Linked DNA regions of Homo sapiens. The protein of the gene in region 2 interacts with the protein of the main gene of each other region in a biochemical or structural test. Each region holds a gene or a part of one and is shown on either strand. Other genes may lie near its edges.

Region 1 (4,511 bases), on a different chromosome or scaffold from region 2:
CTGGAGTGCAGTGGTGCGATCTTGGCTCACTGCAACCTCCACCTCCTGGGTTCAAGTGATTCTCCTGCCTCAGCCTCCCGAGTAACTGGGATTATAGGCGCCCGCCACCACACCCGGCTAATTTTTGTATTTTTAGTAGAGACAGGGTTTAAACATGTTGGCCAGGCTGGTTCATTGTGCTTTAAATACATCTACACCTATTCCAGTAACCATGAATTATGGTTAGTCAATAACTGCATGTCAATGCTTTTTAATGACTCCTCTGTAGGATAACTAGAAAGTTATCATTCCCAGGTTTCATCTCACCATCCCTTCAAAGCCTTCTTACTTCCATCTCCATCTACTGTGGACGTCCTCAGCCTGCCATCGTTGCTGGCCAATGCCCTGACTGGTTCAACAACACTTTTTTTTTTTTTTTTTGAGACAGAGTCTTACTTTGTCACCCAGGCTGGAGTGCAGTGGCGTGATCACAGCTCACTGCAGGCTCGACTTCCCAGGCTCAGGCAATCCTCCCACCTCAGCCTCCGGAGTAGCTGGGACTACAGGCATGCACCACCATGCCTGGCTAATTTTTAAAATATTTATTTTATTTTATTTTATTTGAGATGGAGTCTCATTCTGTCACCTAGGCTGGAGTGCAGTAGTGCAATCTTGGCTCACTGCAACCTCCGCCTCCTGGGTTCAACCAATTCTCCTGCCTCTGCCTCCTGAGTAGCTGGGATTATAGGTGCGCACCACCACAATGGACTGATTTTTGTATTTTTAGTAGAGACAGGGTTTCACCATGTTGGTCAGGCTGGTCTCGAACTCCTGACCTCATGATCCGCCTGCCTCGACCTCCCAAAGTGCTGGGATTACAGGCGTGAGCCACCACGCCCGGCCTTAAAATATTTATTAGAGATGAGGTCTCACTTTGTTGCCCAGGCTGGTTAGCAGCACTTTCTAGAATCCTCCTTTCCACGAGCAATTTTTACAGCCTTAGACTAAATGCCAATGTCCTAACTATGGGCTGCAATAGAACCTTAGATATGTTCAGTGTGACTGCTGGTATCACAGTTCTAAGCTTGAATATTATATTGTAAGATGGGAATAATGAAACTGTTGTTAGTTGTAGCAAAAATTGCTTGAGTTTATTATATTCTCCATTTCTAAGTGAGCAGTATTTGGAGTAAGATAAGCTGAATTTTGTGAACATCAAGTAAAGATTTTTTATTTATCCTTTAGGCAGAGAGCACAATTTTAACACCTATAGTGACGATATATCAGATTCCCTGAATGTTCCCTATGATTACACTTCAGTAATGCACTACAGTAAAACTGCATTCCAAAATGGAACAGAGCCGACAATTGTCACAAGAATCTCAGACTTTGAGGATGTGATCGGCCAACGAATGGATTTCAGTGACTCTGATCTCCTAAAGTTGAATCAACTGTATAACTGCTGTATGTGACAGGTTCTTTGAAATGACTTATATTTTCCGCTGTTATGTAGGAAAAAATGATGGTCTGTGCCATTTTGTCAAGCATTGGTGGGGTTTCTGCGATTATAGAGATTTGATATTCAGGAAATAAACAGAATAGCACTCAGATCTCAATCTACAACTTGGAAGCAGCATTTTTCTTTTCACCACGTCTGGTGTTGAGATCTAAAAACAAATTGGGTCCTGTAGGAATATGCCTCAGGCAAGTTTTTAAAGCTGTTACTAATTCAAACCTCGGTCAGATTGATACTCACACTTCCTTTTAGCCAAAATGATATGTCTAGTTGTAATATGAATGGGATCAAATAATCTGGATTGTGGCTTAATGATTCGAATAACTAGGGGAGTATAGACTCAGGTTTCTACAAATTAGAAAATTTTTTTTAAAAAAGACTTCAGGCAGGGAGCTTATTCAGATCTACAGAATTCATTACCTTCTTTGTAGGGGTTCTGCAAATAAAGAGGGATCTTTAAGCCACCATCATCCAGAATCAGCTAGGTGTTCCCTGTAATACCAACCTGGCATTTCTAATACTGTGATAAGTTCAGTTTTTGTTACTTAGATTATCATGTTGTATGAGTGTCAATAATTGTTTTTTGCTTTTTGTAGCCTCTTCCTTGAGTTTTATGGACTCGTGCAGTTTTGAACTGGAAAATGTGTGTGGCATGATCCAAAGTTCAGGAGATAATGCTGACTGGCAACGGGTTTCACAGGTTCCCAGGGGGCCAGAGAGTGATCACTCCAACATGGGCCAGTGCCAAGGTAACAGGAGTGAGATATTCCTAGACTGTATACTCAGTGGCTACAGCCACATACTTCTCTATGAAAGAATGGGATTTTATCTCTAATTTCTATCAGAATTATTAATGATTATTCATTAGGTTACTACTGAGAAGTAGGCCTTGCACCTGATAAAGACATTGTTAATTTCTTTGCTTTTCCTTCCTGAGTTTATTTTTCTTTCTACAAGTCAGAGCTGGGCTCTGTGATGCCTCTACCAGTGCGTTCCCATAGGAGAGTGTACCAGACTGGGCCTCCTGCAAGGCCTCTTATCTCAGGGGCAGTACTATTGTTTCCTAGAAGTTTGCAGAATACAAGAGACTCTTTCCAATGGACAGCACTAGGCTGCGAATTATTGTTTCAGAACTGTAGCTGGATGTGATTATATGCTCCTGTTACAAAAATATCTAAAAAGCAGAGTTTATTTAATTTTCTTCAGATGCGTATCCTTTTCCATTTTCATTTTGTTTTGCCTTAAGTAGTTATTTGGCTACAAGGACCAAATTTTTACGTATTTGCTTATTCTGGCATCAAATATGTAAAACTAGACTTCAGAACTTAGGGCCAGTGCTTAATAGCTCAGATGATCTAGGCAGGAATTGGAGGCCTCTAATGGCAAAAAGGTGCTTTTCCTTTTATTTTTCTTTTTAAATGCATATTTGGATAGTGGATAGTGGTCCTACTCAGACCAGAGGAAAGTAGATAGGGAGGGAGGGGGAAAAGAAGAAGAATCCAGACCAGGTAGCTCTCACTTTTTTCTGTTTTTGAAAACTAATTTCTGTGGTAAGGGAAAGGTTCCCTAATGTTGTCTCTTTCATAAATCGCCTGCTCCTAGAACCATATTTAAATGCCCAACACAATTCCCTGCATATAGTGGAAACTAAGCGAATACTTGAAATAAGGTAAAGAAAATTGGGCCGGGTGCAGTGGCTCATGCCTGTAATCCCCGGCCTTTGGGAGGCCAAGGTGGGCGGATTACCTGAGGTTGGGAGTTTGAGACCAGCTGGGCCAACATGGTGAAACCCTGTCTCTACTAAAAATGCAAAAATTAGCTGGGTGTGGTGGTGCATGTCTGTAGTCCCAGCTAGTTGGGTGACTGAGGCAGGAGAATCACTTGAACCCGGGGGGCAGAGGTTGTAGTGAGCTGAGATCATACCATTGCGTATCAGCCTGGACAACAGAGTAAGACGTTGTCTCAAAAAAAAAAAAAAAATGAAAGAAAATATATATACACTCAAACCAGAATTACTAGCTGTGCCTTCTTTAGAGATGGCTTAGAAGGTTAAGTATTGCAGATAATGAAAGCAGATAAGTGGGAGGTGCCTCTGAAATTATCAGGTTCAGTTATTCTCAATTTTTTCATTACAAGTATCATTTTAAAAATATTAAAATGTGAATCTCCCCAGATGGTTGCTGTAGTTAACAATATCTTCTGAAAGTTGAATTTCTTTCTTCCTTTTCTTTTTTTCTTCCTTCTTTTTTTGTGACAGTTTGAAGCCAAAGAAGTTAGAAAGTGTTTAAAAAAAAAAGGGGGGCGGGCAGGTCAGCCAAGGCCCTGGTTTCCTGGCTGGACTCTCACCTCTGTCCGCAGTGTGTGTTCACCTTTCCAGAAAGACCTAGAAGTTCACGTTGAATTACCCTTGGGAGACACAGATGCTACAACTCTCTACCCACCCAAGTTTCAAACCCTCGTTTTGACTTAATTTCCATTTTCCTTTTTCATATTCTCAGCGGGGGAACAACCCTCTGTAGCATCTTTGTCCAATGGTAGCTCTTTCCACTTGGAGCTGGACCAGGGTTTTGGACACTTGAAAGGTGTCCCATGTAGAATCTACCTTTTAGCCCTGCTGTTTGGGCTTGACCTGCAGCCTTACAGTGGATTTTTAAAAAGTTAGCATTTGATACTTAAACTTGCTTTATCTTTATAGCTCATAACAAATGAAGATAAGCAAGGATTAGTGCCCACGGAAAACTACTATTGTAAGTAAACGTTTTATAAATAATAGAGAGGTTTGAGTTTTATACTGTTATGTCAATCTGCTAGCTTTTGCAAGTGCCAGATATGTAGCTTAGGCTTCTGTCATTTCTCCCTGGCGATTTATATATGGATGTTACTTATGCCTCGCGTAAAGAATCTAGCACCACCATTAACAAACACACATTCCTATACCCAGTATCTGTTTTTCTCTCAATTCTGCTTTTCTTTAACAGGTTCTGGTTTCTTCATGCATTTCGATAGCAGCTCTGTA
Region 2 (5,155 bases):
CTGCAAGGAGGTAAAGTGGCCTGGGCAAAGGCGCAGAGCATCAGAATCCACATAGCCAGTGACCTCCACCTGCCTCCTCTGCCTCATCCTTTCAGCTCTACCTCCAGGGAGGCTGGAGGGCAGCACAGGGGAGGGTGGGTGTCAGAGCCCTGTGGCCCCCAAGGGACCTGTGTCCAAGCAGGGAACTTCTCTGCAGCTATGGCAGAGTCAGCTTTAGAGTCTTCTCTCCTTCCAGAACCATTGAACTGCAAATACTCCTTAAAAACCCTGATCCAGCCCAGGCGCGGTGGCTCACGCCTGTAATCCCAGCACTTTGGGAGGCCGAAGCAGGCAGATCACGAGGTCAGGAGATTGAGACCATCCTGGCCAACACGGTGAAACCCCGTCTCTACCAAAAATACAACAATTAGCTAGGTGTGGTGGTGAGAACCTGTAGTCCCAGCTACTCGGGAGGCTGAGGCAGGAGAATCACTTGGACCCAGGAGGTGGAGGTTGGAGTGAGTCAAGATCGCACCACTGCACTCCAGCCTGGGCGACAAAAGCAAAAACTCCATCTCTAAAACAAAAAACAAAACAAAAAAACCCCTGATCCGCTGCAAGGATGCCCCCAGCCTTCCTGTCGTTTTTCCCCTCTCTGGGTCACAGGTTTTGAAGTCAACCTGATTTCCCCCCTCATCTCCTAGTGCCCTGCTTCAGATTTGGGCAGGTCTTGCTGAACTGGAGTCCCAGAAGAGAGCCCACAGATACAGGAGGCTGTGTCCCAGGAAGGAGACATAGGCCCTTCCTTCTTGAGGCCCCAGGAGGGAGACAGGACACAGAGACATAGAACTCTCAGTGAACAGAGCAGAGGCCCTGAGAGCTGGGCAGTTAGAGAGGGCAGGAAGAGTGCAATTGGGCAATCAAGGCAAGCTTCTTGGAGGAAAGGGGCAGGGAAGGGTGGATGTCAGGGGAGATCAGTCTGCAGGCAGGCTCTGGAATAGGTACAGAGTGGTGAGGGATTCGAGTTGGATTCCAGTTTAAACATCCACAGAGCCTTTAGGCTTCAGTAGCTAGTCCAGGGGAGGGGGGTACATGGAGGGTGTCCCTATGGCCTTGTCACTAAGAAAGAACAGTTCGTGACTTATCCACTGCGTGTGAATTCAGCGAGATTGGGGAGGGAGGTTTCTTAGGGATAGGGCAGCCTCCACACTCCCATTGCTCCTCTACTCAGGGAAAGGGGGACGGTAGAAATGGCCTGCCTCTCCGGCCAGCACACGTACAGCCATCTCACCCCCACACGGCTCTTCCTCCACAGCCCCATTTTGGATTACACTTCACCTCCAGCCACTCCAGCCCTGGGCGCTAGTACTACAGCTCCTGGGGAAACGCCCCGGGGTGTTGGTGCCCGACTCGTCCCCCAGCCGTCTTCGGCTTCACGGGGTGGGGGAGGGACAGCCCTGACCCCATCTGCTCTCCTAGGCTGCCTAGCAGGCTCCTGTCGCCGCTCCCCGCCCCTTCTTCCAGAGTTCCATCCACTCCTGCCCCCACTCGACCAGAGTTCCTTCCACAGCAGTTCCTGGCCTGGGCGCTGTCCAGCTCCAGGCTGGGTGGTCGAGTCTTCCCTGGGCTCCGAGCAGAGGGAACTCCGCAGCCCGCCCCAGCCTTGTCCTGGGGCGCCTCTGTCCAAGTCGGTTTTCTCTTCCCTGGCCCCCACGCCTCCACCCTCCACTTCTACGGGATGCCACCTCCACGAAGGAGAAAGGAAAGGAAATACAAAGGCATACATTCCGTTTCTGTGGAATTTGCTCTTTATTTTGGGACCAGGGAAGGACCACACACAGCCCTCCAGCCCAGGGGGCGGGGGCACCGAGACGCGGGCGGAGGGCCGCACCCGAACCCTGCCCAGACGCCGCCGTCGGGAGGCAGAATCCGGGTTTCTGGGGTCGGGAGTGCGTATGCAAATGACGTGGGCGTGGTTGGCAGATCTCCCAGGAGGCCTCAGGGGTCCTCACCACAGGTCTGGGCCCTCCGACCTGCGGAAGCGAAGGGGAAGGAATTGGATCTGGGGAGGCGAGCCTGGGAGACGTCGTTAAGTGATGTTGCCAGGGTAGGGCCAGGCCGCGCTCTCGGATGCAGGATGTGTGGTAACGGGCGCTTTTACCGCGACCTGACGGGGCGGTCCTCGCCGTCGGGGAAGAACGTTTTGGAAAGAAGCGTGTCCGGGCCGTCTCTTTTCCCATACCTGGGGGCGGGGAAGGGAAGAGCGTGGTCAGATCTGGCCACGCCCCCAGGTGGAGCGGGGCCGCAGGGTGAGAGCCCCAGGGGTCCCGCTCCGCGCCTGCGCTCACCGCTGCCGGGTGACCAGGTTGAGGTAGTGGCGCAGGGAGGCGTAGTAGCGGTTCAGCTCCTCCGGCGAGGCGTCTTCGCGGGGAGCCTCGGGTTTGATGGGGTAGGCGTCGACCAGCGCCCCTAGGCAGACGAGCAGGGCCAGAAGCACTGTGGTCAAGGCGGGCCACGGCCTGCGCACGAACACCATCTGGGAAGGCGACATTGGGACGTGGGTCATTCCAAGCCTCGACCCTACACGGCGGGAGGCTGCGGCTGCCGTCGGGGCCGCGCTCCGACGCTCTCCCTGGGGCTGGTACCGGACCAAGGCTCAGCCACCGGGCTTGCTGTGTGTTCTTGGGCACTGCACCGTCTCCTGACTCAGTTTCCTCATGTCAGAGGAGCATAAGCCCTGCCTGCCTCCCCACCCCCACCCCCGCTGCTGGCCTCCTTCCCACCTCCGATGGCCCCCTCCAATCCAGTTTCCTACCACTCACCCCCAGCTTCCACCATCCCAGCCTCAGTTTCCCCACAAAACAGCCTGGGTTTCCCCAGGCTTGAGCCCCCAGCCACTCACAGCGATAGCTTGTGAAGCAGACGAGCAGGAGGTGGAAGGCGAGGGAAGTCCCAAGGGCTGCACTGCCGCAGGTCAAGCTGAGGCCTCCTCTGCTCAGCGCTTTCCTTGTGGGGCTTATATCCCCGCCTGGAAAGGGAGGGGGAGTCCCAGGGGGAGGGGGAGCCAGCAGGGGGTGGGCCCTTCTTCCTCCCTCCTTCCACCCTCGCCAGATCGCTGAGCTTATACCCAGCCAGTGCGTGATGTCTCCACCTCGCAGGAGCTGAGGGGGCAGTTGCCATGCTCAGATTCGTGGTCTCACTGGATGGGGTACCCAGCCTGAACCCCATGTTCACCCCACAGCCCCCCAGTGGCAGGTCTAGCCTCCTGAGGAAGTGAAGCGGTTGGATCTAGACTCCTGGGGCAGCCCCTAGGACCAGGGTTGAGATTCTGTCTTCCCTAGCCTGTCCGTGGATGGGAGTTGGGGGTGGGAGGGTGGACACATTCCCTCCAGTCCGTGGGATGTGTGACCACTCTTTCCAAAAGACAACCCTTTTCAGCCTCTGTTCAGTAATACCTTGGAGAAGGGCTGAGGAATGACAGGACCTTTTGGGGAAAGTCTTTCTCCTGGAGGCAGGGTGGGAGCACCTGACCTTGGCTCCTGACCTGCAGTTTATGGTGTCTTGGGGAGAGGCCTCTCTGAACACTCCATTATGTCCTCTCTCTATTAAAGAGTTGGAAAAGAGGCAGGAGGAGGCAGAAACCAATCTCCCCGCCAGAAGCAGCTGAGTCGGCCACCTGTGTATCCAGACTGGCACACACAGACCCCAGTCCAGCCATGTGTGGTATAGAGCCCCCTCCCAAGGCAGAGTGTCTCCACCCCTATGCAGGTGTCATTCAGAGCACTGGTGTCTTCTGGGCCTGAGTGATGCCAAGGCTTCCCAGGCACATGCCACTGTCCCCAGCCCATGGCAGTCTCCACTGGGCTCTAAGCCCAGATCCTTTGAAGGAAAGGACTCGTGTTTATTAAGCACCTACTATGCACTAGGTAGTGCATAATTTCGGGCATCACAAGACGATGAGCTGAGTTTATCTCCATTTTCCAGATGAGGAAACTGAAGCCCTGGGAGGTGATGGAGCAGCCAAGCTCACCCACAATTCAAACAGGAAAAGCAGGGTGAGGCAGAACCCAGGAAGAGGACCTCTCAATTGTGAGGGGCAGAAAGGCTCAGCACCTGGAGTAGCCATTGGGGCGCCAGAGGCAGGCCTGGGAGCAGGGACCCGAAGACTAAGTCTAGGGCCCACACCCACTCTGAGAGGCGGAGTAGGGGAAGGACCTTCAGACTGCCAACCCCCTCAAACCCACCTGCCCAGGAGGAGAAAGGGCTGTGGGAAGGTCTCCCCATAAAGCCCTTCCAGCTTCCTCTCCCTGGCCTCGCCAGACCTCCAGTACTTCCAGATGTCCCATCGGCCCATAGGGACTGATGGGGCCAACTTGTCCAGGCCCTTGGTTCTGAGCCAGCCCCTCCAGCCCCAGGACAGATGGCTGTGGGCGCTATTTTTAGAGCTCTCCTGAGATGGGGAGTTCAGGGCTCTCTGTCACCATTTTATGGGTTCAATCACCTGCATTCTCCGGAAATGGCTCCTTATCAGCCAGTCAGGCCCCATGGGACTCCACATCCCAGGAAACACCAGGGTGCCCTGCTGAGCATGGGGGTGGAAGAGGACACCAGGACAAGGGGACATAGATCCTGCCCTTGGAGGGAGGAGAAAAATCATTCTTCTTAGGGAGCCCTCATCCAGGGGGCAAGACACACCCCTGCCCTTCAAGAACCCCAGTCTCAAAGGAGAGATATGGCCATGTCATAGGGGAGCCCCAGTATGAGCGGTTCCCAGAACAGATACAGAGAGACAGAGACAGCCTTTGTCCTGTTTGGAGGGGAGACAGCAGAAATCAAATAATTCCATTCCTCCATGGAAAGACAAAAGACAGGTGCTCACCCTAGGATGGAGGGAGCAGTGGGGGCTGGTTAGGACATCTGTGATCCCAGGGATCAGGGCCTAGAGAAGGACCCTGCAGGCTAACGGGGGCAAGGATACCAGAGAGTAGGGGGCTATTTGCTCTTCTGACCCTGCGGCGGCACTAACCATGGTGCTGGTAGGGGATTTCTAGTGCACCGATTCTGGACAGAGACGAAGGAAACTGTGAGATGGCCATGGGGAATCTGACATCCCTGGAACCCTGTCATGTCTTGGGGAATGTGGAGTCCAAGGACAGATGGGAAGAGAGGAGAGACA

Evidence for each region.
Region 1: of the proteins of PYY (region 2) and MEP1B, one has a biochemical effect on the other in vitro, tested with the Homo sapiens proteins (one study listed by BioGRID).

Annotation. Positions count from the first base shown.
Region 1 is NC_000018.10:32,206,028-32,210,538, forward strand, and holds part of MEP1B (meprin A subunit beta isoform 1 precursor), read left to right. Parts: intron 1-1,224; coding exon 1,225-1,443; intron 1,444-2,091; coding exon 2,092-2,244; intron 2,245-4,473; coding exon 4,474-4,511. UniProt on the Homo sapiens protein: Membrane metallopeptidase that sheds many membrane-bound proteins. Exhibits a strong preference for acidic amino acids at the P1' position. Known substrates include: FGF19, VGFA, IL1B, IL18, procollagen I and III, E-cadherin, KLK7, gastrin, ADAM10, tenascin-C.
Region 2 is NC_000017.11:43,950,969-43,956,123, forward strand, and holds PYY (peptide YY isoform 1 preproprotein), read right to left. Parts: upstream 2,973-5,155; 5' UTR 2,882-2,972; intron 2,516-2,881; coding exon 2,328-2,515; intron 2,222-2,327; coding exon 2,141-2,221; coding exon of another isoform or gene 2,137-2,140; exon of another isoform or gene 2,013-2,136; coding exon 1,988-2,012; 3' UTR 1,765-1,987; downstream 1-1,764. UniProt on the Homo sapiens protein: This gut peptide inhibits exocrine pancreatic secretion, has a vasoconstrictory action and inhibitis jejunal and colonic mobility.